3 separate regions of the Homo sapiens genome follow, and all the other regions are linked to region 1. The links come from fine-mapping of genetic effects on gene expression. A gene starts in region 1. Each other region holds a variant in brackets. All regions are shown on one strand. Distances are between the middles of the regions. Region 1 holds the start of SEC16B (SEC16 homolog B, endoplasmic reticulum export factor). Region 2 overlaps CRYZL2P-SEC16B (CRYZL2P-SEC16B readthrough). Region 3 overlaps CRYZL2P-SEC16B (CRYZL2P-SEC16B readthrough).

The links. PIP is the estimated chance that this variant, and not a neighbour inherited with it, causes the effect.
Region 2: its variant is the best candidate, but not a certain one, in a credible set for the expression of SEC16B in tibial nerve (GTEx, PIP 0.52).
Region 3: its variant is the best candidate, but not a certain one, in a credible set for the expression of SEC16B in tibial nerve (GTEx, PIP 0.75).

Annotation. Positions count from the first base shown.
Region 1 is chr1:177,967,995-177,973,218 of GRCh38, forward strand. It overlaps SEC16B (SEC16 homolog B, endoplasmic reticulum export factor), which reads right to left and starts at 2,064. Exons shown (of 26, transcript NM_033127.4): 1 at 1,890-2,064; 2 at 1-45. It overlaps CRYZL2P-SEC16B (CRYZL2P-SEC16B readthrough), which reads right to left. Exons shown (of 32, transcript NM_001356506.2): 8 at 1-45.
Region 2 is chr1:177,925,372-177,930,595 of GRCh38, forward strand. It overlaps CRYZL2P-SEC16B (CRYZL2P-SEC16B readthrough), which reads right to left. Exons shown (of 32, transcript NM_001356506.2): 31 at 5,174-5,224; 32 at 3,417-4,558. The coding sequence ends at 4,487. SEC16B (SEC16 homolog B, endoplasmic reticulum export factor) reads right to left here. Exons shown (of 26, transcript NM_033127.4): 25 at 5,174-5,224; 26 at 3,417-4,558. The coding sequence ends at 4,487. Among named protein-coding and RNA genes, the nearest start is that of SEC16B, 42 kb to the right of the region's middle. The variant T/C (reference allele first, on the strand shown) is at 2,470.
Region 3 is chr1:177,931,607-177,936,830 of GRCh38, forward strand. CRYZL2P-SEC16B (CRYZL2P-SEC16B readthrough) reads right to left here. Exons shown (of 32, transcript NM_001356506.2): 26 at 4,692-4,759; 27 at 1,878-2,030; 28 at 1,608-1,706; 29 at 1,092-1,203; 30 at 884-963. SEC16B (SEC16 homolog B, endoplasmic reticulum export factor) reads right to left here. Exons shown (of 26, transcript NM_033127.4): 20 at 4,692-4,759; 21 at 1,878-2,030; 22 at 1,608-1,706; 23 at 1,092-1,200; 24 at 884-963. Among named protein-coding and RNA genes, the nearest start is that of SEC16B, 36 kb to the right of the region's middle. The variant A/C (reference allele first, on the strand shown) is at 2,363.

The DNA.
Region 1 (5,224 bases):
AATTTGTCCTGGGTTTTGAGTAAGTTGTGCAGTTATTTTATCTTCCTGCAGACAAAAGAAAAAGGAAAAAATCATCACTTGAAGCCTATATCCAAACATAGTGGTTGATTAGGTTTTGTGAAAAGAGCAGCTATGGTCCTCGAAATATATCTAAAACAAACCATATGGTCACGGATACAGAGAAATCTGAGAAACAATCTCAGATACATGAAGCAAATAACAGACTAGACAATTATATTAATATTGCTTAAAAAATTAAAAAGTACATGTGGAACAACGACAGATGAGGGAGGCAAGGGAGACAGATAACAATAATAGGTACAGCTAAAAATGCTATCAAGGAATCCCAGTTGATGTTTCTTCACATATTCCCCCAGCAAGTGTTTATTTAACACTTACAGCGGAGGCCCTGTGGTATCATAAACAGAGTGGGTCTTGCAGAGAGCTAGATCAGAGTTCAAATCCTAACTCTGCCACTTAACTAGCTAGTTCATTTTTTCAAGCCTCAATTTCCTTACCCATGAAATGGAGACTGTAAGGACTACCTTGCAAGGTTATTGACAGAGTTAAAGATAACCTATGCGAAGTGCGTAACATGTTACCTAACATGTTAAAATGCTCAATAAATAGCAGTGTTATCAAGGATAAAGATTAGGGTAGTATGAGTGGCTGAAGATGTTTATTAAACAAAAAGAAATTTAGACTGACCTTTTCAAGAAGCACCTTTTCTGAATCCTTACATTAACCCCCTCAAAGAACTAGAACCTATATAATATGGTCATACCTGCTCCTCCTCCAGAGGAGCCAACAAGAGGCAAATTTGGGATTGTTTTCATAAGAAAATAGAAGGCCATATCTCAGGATTCTTCCCGGTTGGAGATTTTAAATGCTGAAAGTCTCCCTAGCATCAAACTAATTTTCCCCCACGTAATCCTGAAAAAGGGAAATTGCTCCAAGGACTGATTACCTTCCAGGTTCCTCTGCCCATTGCACGGGGTAGCGGGGGACAGGGGTTGCACCCACAAAAGGAAAGCACGCCTCAGATCTTACTCTTGCTCAGGGATTCCTTGTGTCAGGAGCATCCACAGGCTAGGTCGGCCTCGATTTTTTTCTTCCTTAGGAACTGTTTTAGGTTGCAAGATTCTGATCAAATCAGTTAACTTGTTTCCACTACTGAAGGTCCCAGCCTCATATAAAAATTCATATCAGAACAAAAGGTCAAAAGAGTGGGTGTTGAAATTGAGACGTCACTCTGCTCAAACACCAGGGAGCCGAGGTCGACAGCTATGAGCCAAGAGCTATGAGACGGCAGAACACACAAGAAGAACAAGGTGCGGAGGGGGCCTCCCACCTCAAGGTCACTCACAACTCAGGGGAACCTCTGGCTTCCTTCCCATATCATCTCACTCCCTTGAAAAAGCCAGGTGCAATGACAGCCTTTGCCAGCAAATCCCAGGAAAGGCCAAATGTCCCAGACACAGGGAAGGGCACATGAGCCTTTTCTGAAGGCTGGTGGAACTCAAAACCATTTGGACCAAGTAAGCAGAATGAGAAGAAACCTGCTTTCTCCTTGTCCCCAGATAGTCTCATTAGGCAGCCCTTTCCCAACTGCAAAGGTGCAACACCCAATCTTTCCACTGAAATCACATCATTTTGCTGCCAAGAGACATCAACTCCAGCAAATCAGTCCTCAGATTAAGGACACCAAATAAATAACACCTTCGATTCTCAAAATGAAGGAATTACATCTATGATGACAAATCAGACTCACACATTCATGTAGATGACCTTTCCTAGCCCCAGTAAAGGCAATCTTGCCTTTCCTAATCTGACGGCACAGCACGTCCAGCTCAAAGAGGGGAAAGAAGGGAGCGAGTGTTCCCACACACCTGCTCTGATGGCTTCCCACCTTCCTTCAGCGCTGCTCCAGGGACCTGGCCCAAGAGTGCCTCCTCTCCTCTTGGAGACTGTCAAAGTCCAGGTGCCACATCTACCAAGACTCCCCAGGCCCTCAGATCTACATCATGTCAGTTACCTTTGCAACTGCCCAACCTCCATGGAGCTGATTCATTAGGGCAAAGTACAGCCCAGATACCGCAGCCCAGGACCCGCCTGACTTGACGAATTTGCTCAGAACCCTGTCAGAGACTGGCGCTTCTGTTTGCCTGAGCATGGGCTGAGCCAGGTTCACTCACATGAGAAATCATCCAAATTCCCACAGCAATCACGGAAGAGAGACATCAGGAAGAGGAAGTCCAGAAGCCCCAAGGCAGCCTGGTCTGGCGAGAAAAGCACCACCTTTGGGGTGTTAACTCGGGGCTCTACCACTAGCTGGTTCTGTTACTTAACCTCTCCGAGTTTCAGTTTCTTTTTCTTTAAAATGGGAATGGCAATGCTTAGCTTATGAGGGTCATTACGGGGCTGAAATGTTGGTAAAGCAGCACATGATATATAGGTAAGTATGCCCTGCAGATCAATATTATCTTTTCCTTCCCAAAGAGACAAGTTAATTCCACTGGTTGAGGCACATGGGGAAGGGGACACGCTCACTGGTGGGAGCAAACACCTGGTTTGCCCAGTGTGGGTTTTTCTTATGTATATTTCTCACCATTGGGTTCTGGTTATGTAATAAATTCTGTCATCTAGCTGGAAGGCAGATTTATATCCCCAGTACTGAACTGAAGGCACTAAAAAGTTTTCCATTATAACAAGAAAGTAGTTTCTCGCACTTGAAATATACATTTCTTCTGCATTATTAAGGTAAACGCAGAAAAGCACATGACTACTTCTGAATTAATATTTTAAAATTCTGAATTTGCTCTTTTAAAAAATCCCAAATGGTTTATTCTTTCTCTCAACAAATGCTTACTGTGTTCCTATTAAGGGCCAGGATTTGACACACATAAATATAAAAGACACAAATTAGTCTCTCATGTCTGTCCTTACTAGTCCAGGGAAAACCACCCCTCTTGGGTCTCATGGTCATATAGGGTCATGTACCTAAGCTACAAGATTTTCTCTCAGCCCCTCAGCTGACTCTAGAACCCAGCAACTGAGCATAGAATTCTCTGACTGTAGCTAATGGTTTCTTTTTTTTTTTTTCCAAGACAGAGTCTTTCTCTGTCGCCCAGAGATGGAGTTTAATGGTACAATCTCAGCTCACTGCAACCTCTACCTCCCAGGTTCAAGCAATTCTCCTGCCTCAGCCTCCCGAGTAGCTGGGATTACAGGTGCGTGCCACCACCCCTGGCTAATTTTTGTATTTTTAGTAAAGAAGGGGTTTCATCATGTTGGCCAGGCTGGTCTCAAACTCCTGACCTTGTGATCCACCTGCCTGAGCCTCCCAAAGTGCTGGGATTACAGGCGTAAGCCACCATGCCTAGCCACTAATGGTTTCTTACCTCACTCTTGGGCTGTGAAGTTTGGCTCTCTAATGGCTGCACTGTTGTTTTTAATCCTTCTGGGAAGAGGAACTAGAGAAGAACATGCACATTAACAGCAGGAATCAGAATGTGGGTGATGATTACACTGACGTGATATCAAATTATATGTTCTGATATATCACAACAACATTCACAAAAGTTCTTGATGTCACTCTTTTGGCATATAATGTGACATTAGTCTTGCCCTGTAACACCAGCTGCATTATGGGAATGTTAACTTTGAAAAGGACCTTAGAGGTTATTTTAGCAACTATGCTTTTTTGATGATAAAACCAAGATCCAAACAAGTGAAATGATTTACCCAAGATCACAAAGTTACCTAGAAGTTCAGTGAAAATTACACTGGTGTGCTCTAGCTGCCTTGCACACCAGTGCAAGTTTAGTAAGAGCTGATTATTAAATATTCAGGAATTGTGTGAGCCGGTTGTTAAACCATGGAAAACTTGAAATCCACCATGGTGGGAGTATTTACACCACAGAAATTGGCAACTGCTACAAAGCAAGGTTGTTGGTGGGTTGCTGGTTTATTTCAGAGAACCTGTTTAGCAGCATACTGATTTGAACCCCAAACTCTTACTTCCTGATTCAGCATTCTTGCAATTATAGAATTGTCATTCTGTTACTAGCCTTCATTGCACAACCCTGGCTTAAACATCTAGTCAAATTATTCTAAATGCTTATTTTGTGACATCCCAAAGTATCTCTAATTATCTCTAGAGTTATTATGAAACTCTTCAAACACTCACCAACCAAAATTAATTCTAATTAGCTTTAATTATTCTATATAGACATATGGCATACAACAGTTATATGGGTCACAAAATTAACTAGATTGTGATGGGATCTCACCACTCCAAAGGGTTTAGGATTTATCATTTCCTACCTTCCCAGCCCCACATAACTACAATTACTAAGTCTTTCGACCTGGCAGCTCAATTCTTCCTGATTTCTAAACCAAATTGACCCAGTTTGACAATACATTAGGAGCTCAATCCCCACCAGGAGGTGGACCAGAATGAGTCTTGCCACCCCAAGTCCTGGCTGCAGTGTTCTTGGATAATCCAGTAGGCTCCCTCATGCCCAAATGGCTACAGTCTTCACATCATCCTGCCCCAAGTGCTCTGTCCTCATACTTGATTCCTGCCCTGCATCCCAACTATGCACCAGGATTGGAGTCCTAGAAGTTTACTAATTTATGTGAATTTCCTTTCCCAGTCTCCATCCTCCTTTCCAAATGCCGGACAGCACTGTCTAGGGTCTAGCTTCAAACAAGAGTAACTGCCTGCTGTGAACTGAATGTCTGTTTCCTCCCAAAATTCATATGTTGAAAACCTAACTCCCAATGTGATGGTATTAGGAGGTAGGCCTCCAAGAAGTAATTAGGGCATGAGAGTGGAGCCTTGTCAATGGAATTAGTTCCCTTATAAAAAGACACAAGAGGGTTTGCTTCTCCTCTCTCTCTCTGCTCTCTGGTGTGTAAGAATACAACCAAAAGATGGCCATCTGCAAACCAGGAAGTGGCCCTCACCAGACACCAGATCTGCTGGAATCTTGATCTTGGACTTCCCAGCCTCCAGAAGGGTGAGAAATAAATTTCTGTTGTTTAAGCCCTAGTCTATGGTTTTCTGTTACAGTAACCCAAACTGACTAAGACACTACCCTAGTTTGACACCTGTCTAGCAAAAGTATTATCACTGTTAATGATGCTGCTAATGTTTAGCCACCGGATTAGTGCTGATGGATGTGAACACCCACCTAGATCTAGGTCAGGTTTGCCAGGA
Region 2 (5,224 bases), 43 kb before region 1:
TGGCTCTCTCTAAGGTAGGTAAGGGCCAGGAAAACATCTCACAGTAAAATAACAAGCAGTTTGCAAAGGTCAGTTGAGTTTGAGTTAAACTGCTGTTGACCCTGATTATCTGGAAACAGGAATATACAAAAAGAAAGAAAGTATGGGAACAAGATTCCTCTACCTAGTGCGATTGTAAAGAAAACATTTTCATATGCTGTTAATCCTTGTTCAGAATAACTTTAAATCTCATTAAGAAACCATTTCTAAAGGACCCGAATGAATGATGCCTGGTATAAGTATGGCCAATTAACGAAATGAAAACAGGCCGTTGTTGAGGCCACATTTAGGGACAACCTCAGTTAAGTACCTAACATTCTGTTGCTTGCAGATCATGCTTCATGCAATTTTCAGCTTAAGACAGCAAACAGAAGAGGGAAAAAGTCACTTCCATTCCACTCTTTGGGGGAAAAAGTGAGAGAGAAACTCATGTGATTGGAGAGACCCAAATTACACACCTATTATTCTTTTCAAGAAGAAAGAGGGTTTTGCACATTCCCTCTTGGGTAGAAAATCTTCTGATTTTAGTGAAGAAGTAGATGCAGTCTCTTGCTCCTCTTCTTGGTTACTCAGAGGAAGAGACCAAAAAGAAAGAGACTTTCTAGGGGAAAACAAAGCTAGCAGAGGCTTTGATCCTGAGCAACCTGAAGCCTGCGAGAGGGCTGAACAGAGAGGACACACAGGTCACTGAGGACTCACGGCTCATTTACAGCTCTATAGCCACATGAGGGGATTAGACAGAGGGCTGGAATGGTAACATGTGATAAAGACCCTGAAATGGAATTTAGTGGTTTGTTCACTTTCAAATTATAGAACATTAAGTTTAAATGTTTTCATATAAATATTGAATTATATGTATATAGCAGAATCATAAATTTGCACACTACTACTCAGCTTTTCAAGGAAAGTGTGGCTCATTTCCTATGACTGATCTATTTTTCCTCCAAGCTTGGATCCTGTTAAGAAGCAGGTGAAAAAACAAACTTGCCAATTAATATTATCTCAGGCTCTTCCCTTTCATACCATGTCTTTTGATCTTTCATTTTTTGAGAGAGAAAGAGAATTCTGTTCATTCTCTCTCCCCAAACAGCTCATGGTGATGGAAAAGAGGGCTATGACCTTCACAGTGTGGCCTATTCATTGCTGGTGGCTGGTCTGGCCCACTCCTGACCTTTTGCCTTTTGGGATACTACTTGTCCCATCTGGCCTTTGGGGTCATTATGCAATTATTCTCTGCTAGAGTCTACACTACAGCAGGCTTCAGGGAGCTCGGAGCTCTGCCTCAGATCCCCAAAGCCAAGCTGCTATGGCTCCCCAGACACATTGGACACACTGCCAAGCCAAAGCCAGCTTCTCCTCAAGTCTTGCAGCCTCCCTTCCCAAGATTACCAGGGGAGCTAGAGGAAAGGGCCACTAGCCCAGTATGCTCCCTTTCATAGCAGTGTATATCTGTCACAACCTGCTCTATTTCCCAAGCCTCCTTCCCAAGCCTCCACCTTATCAAAGGAGAAAACAATATTTTCTTCTGACAGCTGCACTTGCTTTGTTTCACTACAACAGATTTTAACCAGTTGAAGTTGTAAAATAACCATGACCTTTAGCAATACCACCACCACTACCCAAAGAACACAGATGGGCAACTAAGAACTGGGAGTGACCCCAGTTCCTCAGACCCTTACTGGACCTAACATTCCTAACCAATGAGCAACTGGGCTTGTTTTAACCAAGCATACACAGATTAACGACACATTCGGACTTTGCCAGAGTAAAATCTTTCAATTATGAATCACCATAAACACCAAGAACCTCCTCCCTTCCTAGTGCACAGAAACCCCTGACTCTTCCTCTTCAGAAAGTATATTCATTGCTCTGTATTCCTTTGGCCTGGGAGGTAACTAAACTCAGTGCTTGCTTTGTTGAGCATGACAGTAGCCACTGGTATTCCATGAATTCTCTTAACGGGAGGAGGACATGAGGACACAGGCATCCGACATCTGTGCCTTCCTCTTTGGTCTGCAATCTCCTCCCCTAAAGTGCTTTATTTCTTGGACAGGACCTCCCCTACGCCATTGCTCCCATGGGCACAAAGCCTCATGGCCTAATGTTGGTGTTAGAAGGGATGCAGGAAGAGAAACTGACTTGGCAATGACACATATTGAGAAGTATGTTTTAATCATCATTCCTGTCCTATACAGGTATCAAGAACAAAAAATCTATAGTCAGATCTGGTAGGCCCAAAAAAAACAGTCCAGATCTTATTAGATTGCAAATTAACAATAAAAGACACTGTAATAAAGTACAGTTGAGCTTTGAACAATGTGGACATGATGGGCACTGAGCCCTGCAAAGTCAAAAATCCACATATGATTTTTGACTCCCCAAAAACTCAGCTGCTGATAGCCCACTGTTGACTGGAAGCCTTATTGATAA[T/C]ATAAACAGTCAATTAACACATATTGTATATGTTATATGTATTATACACTGTATTCTTAAAGTAAGCTAGAGAAAAAACATGATTAAGAAAATCATAAGAAAGAGAAAATATATTGACCCTTCATTAAGTGAAAGTGGATCATCATAAAGGTCTTCATCTTCATAGTCTTCACATTCAGTAGGCTGCGGAGGAGGAAGAAGAGGGGTTGGTCTTACTGTCTTGGACAGGCAGAGGCAGAATAAAATCCAAGTATAAGTGGACCCACACAGTTCAAACTCATTTTGTTCAAGGGCCAACTGTACCTAGCATATACCAGGCCCATTTCTAAGGGCCTAACTCATTTAATTTTTGCAATGTCCCTGTAGGGCAGGTACTATGATTATTATCATCTTAATTTTATAGATGAGAAAACTGAAATACAAGACAGTGAGGTAACCTTGCCCAAAGTTACAGGGTGAGCTACGGATGAGCCAGGATGCAAGACTAAGCAGTGTGGCTCCTGTGAAACTCACACACTAATGCCACAGCACCACCACTGGATGTCAGCATACCAAATTGAAGGAGCAGCAGCCTTTTAAGGAAAAAAGCGGAACAGCATTTACTGAGGGCCTTCCAGGTGCAAAACATTTATGCATACATTTTCTAATTTAATCTAAGAGGTTAAAAACAACTTTTTATGGAACAAAATATACAACACTTAGTTCAGTTAGTAAAGTGACTGACTTGCATCAGAGGAGCTTTTTGTTCATATTTTTTAAATTGGAAAAATAATAAAATTAGAGTAGACTTAGAAGTTAAGAGGATCTGTCCCTAGATTCCTCATTAACAAAGGGCTCTTTCCAGCTATTCACACTTGATCACACAATAAAACCATTATTAGAAAGACTTCAGGGAAGAGACCACCAATGTACTTTCTTCCTCTGTAAAAATCAGCCAGAGACAAGCATTTGCTATAAAATTATCTGGGTTTAATTATTATCAATATCAGAACTATAGAACATTAACGTACTAAACCTGTATTTACAATTACATGTACAAAAAAAAATGTTCTTTGTGAGGAGCAATTTTCAGCAAATCTGACAAACAGCAAGAGTCATTCCTATTTTGGGTTTGAAAAGAGAAATGGAAATTTCCAAGACGCCCCCCTCCTCCCTCTCACTCCAGTGACCCTCTGAACATCAATTTGCAAAGGCCTGAGGTAGAAAGGGAGGTATTAACAATATCAGGCACTCATTCTTCCCCTCTTATGAAAGGGATGAATTTTTAGGAACCGTTTTCCATCATTTATTATACTGATGTGCCATCCATCTGCATCATTAGGTTCAGTAGTTACCATGACAATATGATGCCTACAGCAATCTAACTTGATAGCCACATGCCAGAATGTGAAAAAATAGGACCAGCTAAGAAAGTGAGAGAAATATAATTAATCTGAACCACATTCAAAAAAATGTGCACAAAACTAGGACCAAGAGGGAAACTGCTGAAATATCATTGAAGAGGAAATTATAAAGGGCAGCAATAATCAAGTTTCAGTATAAAAACTTTGCTAAATAGAGCCATGTATTGGTCTATTACTAAGACAGGAAGTAGTCAAAGTTGGTCTAGAATATTGTTCTGAGCCCCTGCCCCTCCCCCTGCTTCCCATTTCTTGCTACAGGGCCCTGCGGTATCATCTTTGATTCTAGCTGTTAGGGCCCTAATTTCCCCAAGGCTCTCAAGCCACCACCATAAGTGCCACCACCATGTCACTCTGCTCATGTGCAGTCTGCTATTAGACCCAGACTTTCCACCTGATGAAATAATTTCCATCATTGTGAAGCTAATCTTAAGAGACTGAATTGTGCTGTGTCTTGAGAGATCCTGTCCTCTTGCCTTCTAAGTGCCCGGTGGAGGCATCGGGCTAGCACAAACCTCTTGAGGGTCCCAATATGGTAGAGAGGGGCTGGGAGATTGAGAAAAAGAGAGCAAGAAAGTTTCAGTCCTGGGAGATGAGCCTGGGACGTGTGTTTATTCTCAGCATGGCTGGGTGGGATAGCGACGCTGAGCTAGGCGATTTGGCCGATTCAGGCTAGTGGCCGTGGGCAGCTGGAAAAGAAGAACAAATATTACACTGAGTACAGCCCCAAACATGACTCTGCCCGGGGTTGATTGGACAGATGGAGCTAGGGCACCCTGAGCCTCTGTGTAGAACATTTCCCAAGGTTGTGTTCTAATTGCGTACCTCCACCCAACCCTTCACCTAACTGTGGTAAAAGAAATTTGATTTTTATAAAGAGAGGAGGCCAAATGAGACATTAGCAGAGCTAAGTCTACCCAGATTGCTGAGGAACAGGGAACTTAGCTTCTCTCAAAGTTTCCAATGATCCCTTCATCCCCAGGACAGAGTGACACTGCACCCACACTACTGATACCAACACCAACTGTGTCTCCCACATCTCAAGAGCTATTAAAATTTAAACATGATATTAATAGTAACTACATTTATTGACCATTTTCTGGGTTCCAGGCCCTTCATATACATATCTCTGAGCTAGCTACTACTAATCCCACTTTACAGATGCAGAAACTGAGACTTGGAGAGGCTAAATAATTGCTCAAGAACTCACATATCATAAATGGTAAACTGGGATGATAAACCTAGGTCTCCTTAATCCAAAACCTGTACTCCTGGCCAGCCCCTCCCCCTGAGGGCTTCCTTACCTGAGGCACCTGAGATGGGTTGTAAAGAGGAACAGCCCCTTTTAAGGCAGG
Region 3 (5,224 bases), 36 kb before region 1:
GAAGGGTTTCTTAATAGAACTCAGGGAATCTCAAGCAAGCAAACATGGTTCAAGTGGAAACAACCAACCCCTGGGTCTGGAGTGGCAATACTGACAAGAAGAAAAAGCCTCAATAAATTATATTGATACCATCATAAAAAGTAATATAGCCTTCAAAAGGCCTAAAACTCTACAAGAGTTATCTAACCAGACTTAAAGAAATAAAAATGTTTTCCTAGCAATAGATATGAAATCCATACTGATGTGGACAACTCATCAAGAATTTGTCACAGCCCTGGCCAAGGTCTCCAGTGAACTCCACCTCCTCCTGGGACAGGGAAAAAGGCAAGTCCCCAGGCTTCCCCCGAGGAAGCTGTTATAGGTTGAACTGTGTTCCCAGAAAAAAAAAAAATCACGTGTTGAAGCCCTAACCCCCAGTACCTCAGAAAACATATGTTTGGAGAAACATAAAAATACAACATTTGGAGATGGGGTCTTTAAAGAGGCAATTAACATAAATGGAGGTCATATTGGTAGCCCATTCCAGTATGACTGATGTCCCTATAAGAGGAAGAAATCTGAACACAGACACGCTCAGAGGAAAGGCCATGTGAAGACGTGGAAAGAAGATGGCCGGGCACAAGCCAAGGAAAGAGGTCTCAAAAGACACAACCCTGCTGAAACCTGGACCTCAGCTTTCAGCCTGGAGAACTGTGAGAAATTCGGTTTCTGTGGTCTGAGCCTCTGTTCTGTGGTACTTTGTTATGACAGCCTGAGCAAACTAACACAGCAGAGAAGCATTCTTCAGGTTCGCCAGGAGTCAGCACTGCCCACACTGAAGGTTCAGTCCTCACACACAGGCATCTGCTGGGGTCCGAGGCTCCAGCCCAGGGGGGCCGCTTACCTCTGGTCCAGACAAGCCTCCAACCCCAGCGCCCGCAGCTGCTCCCCCGCTGGATGCGGATCCTCGGCCTTCACCCCCACCTGGAAAGTAATGAGGCAGAGCTGTTTCCTCTGCTCAGGACTGGGGGTCCCCACTCCCAGAAGGCACCCCAACCCTTGGGAGTGCTGAGGGGACCACCCATGGCCCAGAGGACGTGAGGTGACGGTACCTCTGCCCCTGGAGAAGGCACTAACATCCGGCAGAGGTGGGGACTCAGGGGAAGGTGTCAGTGAGAGGCCCAGGCCAGCCTGGTGGGGAGAAGATGCTCTGGGGGTCTCCTGCTTTGTGGAGAAAGAAAGGCAGCATTGGCAACATTGGCAGTTAACAAATTGATGCCCGCCAATTTGTGTTCCCACACTCACGATGGCGGCCTTGCCACAAACTGCTGCTGGGCACTCCCCAAAACCCCCCTCCTCATCCCACTCTTCTGCTCAACAATCCACACTAGCTCCCTACTGCTGACCCTCTAAAGTTACATTTCTTCATCCAAACTTTTTAAAGCTTTTTTAATCTGCCTTTGCCCTCACAGGACCCATTCATTTCCCACCATATCCCATCACAAAACCTCTGTCTCATGTGGCCTGGGGTAGACTCAGGTGCCAGCTCTGAGAGCTCCTAGGTGCTGAGGCAGCTCCCTCTGAAAGACCCACAGAGAGGGGCATCCTCCCCCTCCCACAGAGCCTACCTCAGAGTCAGGGCTGTCTGAGGAGTCCTCGTCTCCAGCGGGGGATGCGTTCTTGGTGGGCTTCGATCGAAACCAGCTGAACCAGCCAAACCCTGAGCTCTGGAAGGGGAAGAGGACATTTTATGACCTGCAGGTTGGCTTCTTCCCCAACTATGAGGTTAACCCGCCCCCATGTAACCATCAGAGCCCAGACTTCCAAGTCTGCACCACCCTCGAGGAAGGGAATGGCAGGGGAAGGAAGGCAGGGGAGAGAAGAACAAGTCCCTCCACCTTTGTATGCTCCTTCCCATCTCCGAGCTTGCCTCTCTGGGCAGTATTTCGGGGAGAGTTTTTATCAGCCTCATCAGAGGACTCCTTCTCATCCTCCTTGGCTGAACTGGCGGAACTCTCAGAAATACTTCGTGGTCTAGCAGCCAATGGTGTCTGGAATTAAAGAAATAACTCACATTTGCATGGCACTTGACAGGTTACCAAACACATTTGCACATACTCCCTCACCTGACCTGCTCAGAAGGCAGTGGGACTGTTGTCTCAGGATCATATTGTACTGAAGAGGAAGGAAGGCTCAGCCATGAAAAATGACTCACTGAAGGTCGCAGGATAAGGACAGAGCCCAAGCCCATGTTATCCCTAATTCTACAGACCTTTGTCTGGTGTGCCACCTCTCCAGAAACAGACAGTTTTCAGAACTATGCCAAGGCCTGGAGTAGGGGGTATGGACTGCTACTGCTGGAGATGAAGAGGGCCAGAAAACA[A/C]CCCACAGAGGCCCACAAGCTCCCCCCAAAAAAAAAAAAACAGAGAATGTAGCAACCACCAAACATAACTCATCTTAGAGCTCATTTCCTAACAGACTTGCTCAAGCTCAACTGTGAACATATGCACCAAAGGGGGGTAAAATACACCCACATCCCTTTACATTAACTTTTTTTTTTTTTGTGGTAAGATAGATACAGGATAAAGCTTGCCATTTTAACTATTTTTAAATGTACAATTCAGTGGCAGTAAGTATACACACAGTGTCGTACAACCATCACCACTAGCCATCTCCAGAACTTTTTCATCATCCCCATTACCTAACTCCCCATCTCCCCTTCCCCCAGGCCCTGGTCACTGCCATTCCACTTTATGTCTCTGAATTTGCCTATTCTATGTATCTCACGTAGGTGGAGTCATATGACATATTGCCCTCTTCTGTTATATTTACATTTTTTACTCTCAATAGAGCACAATTGATACAAACCTTTGGAAATACTTTAGGAAAATAAAGAAAAAAACTTTATTTTTTATTCAAATGAATATAGTGTTGACTTTGTGCCGGGCACTGTTTTAAGGGCTTTATATGTAGTGATTCATTTAATCCTTACAATAGTCCTGTGAGCTAGGTGCTATTATTATCTCATTTTATATATAAGAAAACTAAGGCACAGAAAGGTTAAGCAACCTGTGTCGGGTCACACAGCTCATAAATGGCACAGCAAAGGTTAAAAGTAGGCTGTCTGGCTTTCCTTCTAGGAATTTCTTCTAAGTGAATGATTCAAGACATAGACAAGGGCTTATATACTAGGATGACCAGCACTGTGTGTTATATATGAGTGAGAAAAGGAAGGAGGAATGGAGGGAGGGAGGGGAAAGGACGCAACACTCACAATGATTAACGACAACATGGGAATGATCCACCAGAATGCGAGCTCCTTACCATGGTCGTGGAGGCCCCATAAGTTTACCTCTGCTGCCCTCCAGCCTTGTTTCTCAGCCCTCCTCCCTACTGCTCCCCACTCTCAGGGCACAGTGGCTCCCTTGCTCTCCCTTAACTACACCAAGGGAGCCACTGCAGGGCCTCCAGTCCTGCTGTTTCTCTGCCTCAAACACCTTTCCCCCAGATATTCACCTGGCTCATTTCCATGCTCCACCCTGATCTCCACTTGAAGGCCTCCTCAGAGACACCTTCCTTGGCCACCCCTCTGAAGTGAGATGCCTGGCGCGTATAGTTGTCTATTTTTAGTCACTTCCACTAGACTTGAGCGCCTGAGGTTAGGCTTGGTCTGATGTGCTGATGCCTCCCCAGCCCCTGTGACAGGGTCTGGCACATTGTAGGAACTCAGTGAATATTTCAAATAAATGAATGAATAGCGCTACTTTCATAAAATCAATTTCGTCATGCCAATATTAAAAATCATATTTATGAATGACATAGAAAAATCTCATAGAGTGTTAAGTAACAGATATGAAATAAAGCTTTGCATACATATGTTCTTAGCCATTTAAAAACATGTATATGTGTATAATGTATATACAGATATACATATATGTGAGTATATGTGTGTATATATAGAAAAATAGTATAAGAAAAGAAAAATATTCTGACTGTTGGATTGAATGATATTTGATTCTTTATATGATACTTCACTATTAGATTTTTCTATAACAATAATGTACCACTTCAGTCAGGAAAAAAAAAAAAACGGAAAAACATTAAAGTTTGTTAAGACCTGTACCCCTGTTTTTCTACTTTAAAAAGTTATAGGATGTAACCCTCCAACCAGGAGAAGCTGAAGAACGCCTCAGGTTTGGGACCAACACTGCCCATTGCTGAGGGCAGGGGTGTGTCCAATCAGAGCTAGATGGAATGATTCACCAGACATGAGGACCTTACAGCCTAACTGAGGAGAAAAGACAGGCAGGCACTGTCACAGCTACCACAGATCTTTCTTTGAAATAAAGCCAGGTAAAAATTAAAACAAGGAAATATCAACAGTCTTCCATGGCAGGACAGGGTAGGGCAAGCGTTTTGTGCAGCACTGAGAAGATGTCAGAGGTAACAGAGATCTGAGAGGCCAAAACGAATCAGCTCAGTTGCTCCCTCTCTCCCCATGGACACAGGTTTGTGGGGCTGAGCGTAAACAAGAACACAGCCTCCCGCCCAGCTCCCAGGAGTTGGAATAGGAAAAGGCAAGGCGAGATGTGGAAGAGAAAGCTGCTGCAACACTGAGGAGGAGCTTGCATGTGGCTGGGAAACCAAGGCAACTGGTAAAAACCAGAAGCATTTGAGTGGGCAGTGGCATCTTTTATGCTGTGCGCTCTCACCTGTGGTTTGGAAATGACCTCTTGGCCATCAGGAGGCTGGGAAGTTTCTTGAGACACTGTGTTCTCTCCTGCATCACAAACAGAAATGGAAATAGCAATTGGAAGTTGTGCTTTTCCCATCTATCCTGAAGAAGGGTAACTGGGACACAATCAGCTTTCTTAACTGCAGCAGAAGCTCGGAGCCCATAAGCCCAAGCCAATCACAGCAAATACAAAGAATGCTCACGTAGCTCATCTCAATCCCAGCCACCCCAGGACATGCTGTTCAACTCATCCTCTACTTCCAAAGCCACTCTTCAGGAATCTTGGAAATCAGAGCAACATCAAGCTAGGTCACAGGGATCCTCCACCACTCCTCTCCATCTGAGCCTCCATCTTGGACAGGACCTAATCCTGGAAGGTCTAAGAGCTAATCATTCTAGATGGCTTCCACCATCTCCCTGGCATCACTCAGCATTGCTTACCCATACTCAGCCCTTGTTGTCGAAGGTCTGATGGGCCTGAAGAAACTCGGGACCAAGACAGAAACATGG